Regions from separate parts of the Homo sapiens genome. Here region 2 is linked to region 1. A link means that fine-mapping ties the variant in region 1 to the expression of a gene that starts in the linked region. Tissue or cell type: whole blood. Region 1 holds a variant in brackets; the other region holds the start of a gene. All regions are shown on one strand. Distances are between the middles of the regions.

Region 1 (2,657 bases):
TTCTTCTGGGAGACTCCCAAGGAGACTTAAGAATGGCAGATGGAGTGGCCAATGTTGAGCACATTCTGAAAATTGGATATCTAAATGATAGAGTAAGTATACAAATCTGTAATTTTTTTCGAAGAAAATATTAGGATGAAACTTGATAGGCAATTGTTGCCATAGTCACCTGAGAAAGTAGTTATTTTAGAGACTTTTTTTTTTGAGACAAGCCTCTGTTACCGAGGCTAGAGTGTAGTGATGCAATCACATCTCACTGCAGCCTCGACCTTCCCGGCTCAAGCAATGCTCCCACCTCAGCCCCTCAGGTAGCTGGAACTACAGGCGCACACCACTACACCTGGCTGATTTTTAAATTTTTTTTAGAGATGAATTCTCCCTGTGTTGCCCAAGCTGGTCTCAAACTCCTGGGCTCAAGTGATTCTCCAGGCCTCTCAAAGTGCTTGGGATAACAGGCGTGAGCCACTATGCCCAGCCAAAACATATTGTGATCATGCATTTTGATTGTTCTTTATACTGGTGATGTTTAAAAAGGAGCTGAGATGCATGCTATAGGTACTGGGAAAAGGGAGGATGTGTATTCTGTAGGAGGCCTCTGTGTCTTCTGCCCACTAGATGCTGGATAGCAGTCTCCTGCCATGAGACTCAAAAATGTCCCTAGACGTTACTAAATGTTCCGTGGACAAAAATCACCCCATTTGAAAGCCACTGGACTGGAGAGAGAGCATTTTGGGGAGAAAAGCTACCATGTGGAAAAATGTCTGTCAGTGGGTCTTAAGGATTTGAAAATATTTCTTCATTTCAAAGATTTTTTGAAAGTGAATTTAATTTATTGCATTTTGCCCAAGAGATCTAACAACGAGATTCATACTGAAATTATTTGTTTCTTTGCCCTGCATGTTAATTTTCTTTTGTTCATCTCTTGATTAGGTGGATGAGCTTTTAGAAAAGTACATGGACTCTTATGATATTGTTTTAGTACAAGATGAATCATTAGAAGTAGCCAACTCTATTTTACAGAAGATTCTATAAACAAGCATTCTCCAAGAAGACCTCTCTCCTGTGGGTGCAATTGAACTGTTCATCCGTTCATCTTGCTGAGAGACTTATTTATAATATATCCTTACTCTCGAAGTGTTCCCTTTGTATAACTGAAGTATTTTCAGATATGGTGAATGCATTGACTGGAAGCTCCTTTTCTCCACCTCTCTCAACACACTCCTCACCGTATCTTTTAACCCATTTAAAAAAAAAAAA[AAG/G]CTAAAATTAGAAAAATAACTCCCTACTTTTCCAAAGTGAATTTTGTAGTTTAATGTTATCATGCAGCTTTTGAGGAGTCTTTTACACTGGGAAAGTTTGTAGAAATTTTAAAATAAGTTTTATGAAATGGTGAAATAATATGCATGATTTTAAGTATTGCCATTTTTGTAATTTGGGTTATTATGCTGATGGTATCACCATCTCTTGAAATTGTGTTAGGTTTGGTTATTTTGTCTGGGGAAAAAATATTTACTGGAAAAGACTAGCAGTTAGTGTTGGAAAAACCTGGTGGTGTTTACAATGTTGCTAATCATTACAAAACATTCTATATTGAAGCACTGATAATAAATATGAAATGCAAAACCTTTTTAATTCTATGGTCAAAACTATCTTTACTGAGTCAACAAATATTTATTGAGCACCTACCATGGTTTTTTGTTTTCTTCTTGTTTCTTTCTCTCCGTCTGCCTGTCTTTTGTGATATATAAATTCTAAAGTCCTTGTCATAGTGGCTATTTAGATTGAATATTTTCAGAAATTATTTAAGTCTAAAGATATTTCAGGGAAAATTTTGTCTGCCCTTCAGAAAATACTGAGACCTCTGAAAATTATTTTCTCCCATTTAAAACATCAGTAAAAGGTACAAGTCTGCAAGTTTCAGAAGCCGAGACAGGAAGCAGTGGAGCTGGGTCTCGTGGTGACTGAATCTGAGCAGCACTGCGACATTAGGAGCCAGCATCTCTCTGTACAGTCCAGCTACCCACTCCACATCTCTGGCTCTGCCTCATCATTCATCTTCAGGATTTAGACCTGCCATTGTGATCAATTTGACCGTGATTCTTACCCTTAATTCCAGATCCTATGAACACCTAATTGGTTTGCTTATATAAGCACCTGAGCTATGATACACACAAAGCATGATCTGATTCATTCTGGCCATCCAGTGTGAGCAGCAGTCTCTAGTTCAGTCAGATGTGGCTGGAAGGCAAGGTCACATGTTAGGAAACCTTTTTGTCCTGGGAATGCCCATCCTTATCCTCCCCCACCACTCCTTTTCATCATCATAAGCAATGAAGCAGGCCAGGCACGGAGGCTCACACCTGTAATCCCAGCACTTTGGGAGGCCAAGGCGAGTGGATCGCTTGAGCCTAGATGTTTGAGATCAGCCTGGGCAACATAGGGAGACCCCAGTCTCTACAAAAAATTAGCCAGGCATGGTGATGCACCTGTAGTCCCAGCTACACAGGAGGCTGAGGTGGGAGAATCACCTGAGCCTGGGGAGGTTGAGGCTGCAGTGAGCTGTGATTGCACCACTGCACTCCAGGCTGGTCAACAGAGCAAGAACTTATCTCAAAAAAGCATAAAAATAATGAGGCCAGGTGCAGTGGCTCACATCT
Region 2 (2,683 bases), 48 kb before region 1:
AAACAAAATTTGGAACTCCATTTCTGTTTTAGATTGTCCACAGCTTCAAGACGAATGTTATCGTCTACAAAATGTTTAAAATCCTGAAATTATAGAAACGTGGCTTTAGTCTCTACCCATTCAAAATAATATGTAATATATGGAAAATGTTTTTGTTGAGGAAGAAAGATAAATGAGACTGTGACCATCTTAGGCCTCACAATCAGACAACATTTAAGTCATATTGGTATTTGGTGCAAAACTGGATTCATAAAAAATTACTTTGGCGACAAAATGACACAGTAGTCTAGATATTGATACTCAAATATTCTGGGTATTAAAACTCAGTCTTCTTCAGGTTATACTCCCAGCTAACTTACTTTGGGACACGTTCTCGGTCTATACTGAGTCTGTGTTCCCAGGCTTAAGTCCTCAAACTTGGCCGAGTAATAAAACTAACCATGATTTCTTTAAGTTTTAGTACCTGTTATTTCACCTTTCGGTCGACAAATCGTTTTTCTCATGTTCCTCTGTCTTACATCAATTTAATTTGTAGACCAGCCAAATGACCTAAAAGGCTAGAAGGAAACAATTTTTCCTCCCCTACAACTATTTCCTCTAGTCCTCCGGCTGAAAGTTGTTCCACGTCCTGGGCAGAGAGAGCCCCACCAGGCAGCACCACCAGCTCCACAGAGTTGGAGCGATTCCCCCAAGAAGCTCCCCTGCGCCCCTCCTCACCCCCAGAGACCAGCAGAAGAAATGGCATCTATCCCTTGGAAGACACTAGGCAGGAGAGAACAACTGCAAGCCCTTCTGCTCACACAGAAAAAAGGATGGCGGAGGTGGCGAATGGGATGTAGCAGAAACCCCGCGGCTGCGGCGGAAGGGACACCGCCCCTCTCCAGCCTAACTCTGAGCCATCTTCCCCCTGTTGTTATAGCACTTAGAACGGACGCCACTGCGCAGGTCACACCGTGCCGCGCAGCCTTCTGGGGGTCGGAGTCCAGAGGGGCTGAGGCGCGAAGGCGGAGACCGACTTCTTAGCGGGCCGCAGTTGGAATTAGATTTCTACTGGGGCGGGGCTCGAGCGAACCACGGCCTAATCCTCATTAGCAGAGAAGGATAATTACCGCAATACTCTGCCCTGCCCTGACAGCAGCTCGTGAGACCCTGAGTCTGCTGAAGGCCGCCTCCAGCCTGGGCTCCGGGCACAGGCCACACCCCTCCCGCCGCGTCCTGGCCTCTCCCATCGATGGCGTGTGGGTGGGGCTTCGTGGGGGCGGAGCTGCGCGGGGCGGGGCGTCGCTGCGCGGGGCGGGGCGTCGCGGGCTCGTCCGTGATGCTCTGGGATCCCGCGCTTCCGAGACTCGCAGTCTACGCGAGCTGCCTGTTTTTTTCCTGCTTGGACGCGCATGAGGGCCCCGTCCATGGACCGCGCGGCCGTGGCGAGGGTGGGCGCGGTAGCGAGCGCCAGCGTGTGCGCCCTGGTGGCGGGGGTGGTGCTGGCTCAGTACATATTCACCTTGAAGAGGAAGACGGGGCGGAAGACCAAGATCATCGAGATGGTGAGTGTGGAGGCTCGGCGCGCCCAGAGCACGCGAGGGGCCGGCTGGGCCGTCCGCTGGCCTCGGCAGCCTGTGCTGGGCCGCTGTTCGGTCGCGACGGGGAGCTGCCGGCGTCGCCTGTCAGGCTGGGATCTCGCTAGCTCGGGACGCGCAGCTTGGGGGACCCGGCCGCCCCGCGTGCGGCCACTCCGCGGGCTTGGTGACCAGGGTTGGGTCCCCGGCTGCGGCCCTTGGCTGCCCGTGGTCTTTGTTAGGTTTCCGTTTGAAGGAACAAGGCAGAAAATAGATGAATCGGACACAGGCTACTTTGTGCTGCAAAACCCGTTTCTCTAGAGATAAGCTGCATGTCCTGGGCAGGTGGCTCCTTCTCTCCCTGCCTTGCTCCCGCCCTCCCCCCGGATCCGCGTCAAACCGTTGCCGCTAATCTAGTTGCAATTCCCGCAGAGGACTAGTTTTATGTTGGGGCTGCCGTGAGTTAGATTATGAAAATGTGCAATATCTAAAATTTTACAAGAATGGCAATCCAGGAGAAATTCAGGATAGTTTATTTTGTATTTGAATGTATTCCTTCTTGTCTCAAAACTCCCACGAAATATCTTTGTTTTCATCTTAACTCCCAAAGCTCTTGTATACATTTTCGAATTTAATTTTTTATTGAAGAGGGTGTCTCAAGAATTCCCTTTGAGATACATTATAAGTAATTGTTTCAAAAATGAGGATATTTAGTTTCGTTTTGTATTTTAATTAGAACCCACTCAGGAAGACAATTCTTGCACAAACTTGCACGCTTATGTATTTCCTGAAATGCATAATCCTGGGTATACGCCTGACCGTGTGCTATACATGTGAACATCTAGGGTCAGATGATTTATGATAGAAAAAAATTTAAAATCTACACTAAATAATATCATTTTAGGGTGTAATACTTGGAATTTCTGAGCACCTGCAATATGTTCCAACTGACGAAAGACACGATTTGTCCTATTGGTTGTACTGACCCCAGGTTGAATACAGATGTATTTGCATAATTAAAATTAGCCAGTGTCCCAGCTATTTGGGAGGCTGAGAGGAAGATCACTGGAGTCTGGGAGTTCAAGGTTATAATCACACCTGTGGATAGCTACTGCACTCCAGCCTGG

What was found. PIP is the estimated chance that this variant, and not a neighbour inherited with it, causes the effect.
Region 2: it holds the start of NT5C3A, and the variant in region 1 is fine-mapped to the expression of NT5C3A in whole blood (INTERVAL, PIP above 0.99).

What each region holds. Positions count from the first base shown.
Region 1 is chr7:33,013,105-33,015,761 of GRCh38, reverse strand. NT5C3A (5'-nucleotidase, cytosolic IIIA) reads left to right here. Exons shown (of 9, transcript NM_001002010.5): 8 at 1-92; 9 at 931-1,632. The coding sequence ends at 1,032. Among named protein-coding and RNA genes, the nearest start is that of NT5C3A, 48 kb to the left of the region's middle. The variant AAG/G (reference allele first, on the strand shown) is at 1,258.
Region 2 is chr7:33,061,429-33,064,111 of GRCh38, reverse strand. NT5C3A (5'-nucleotidase, cytosolic IIIA) reads left to right here and starts at 1,336. Exons shown (of 9, transcript NM_001002010.5): 1 at 1,336-1,544. The coding sequence starts at 1,407. It overlaps LOC124901610 (a long non-coding RNA gene), which reads right to left and starts at 927. Exons shown (of 4, transcript XR_007060279.1): 1 at 464-927; 2 at 1-83. RefSeq lists an enhancer at 822-981 and silencers at 1,222-1,341, 1,642-1,701.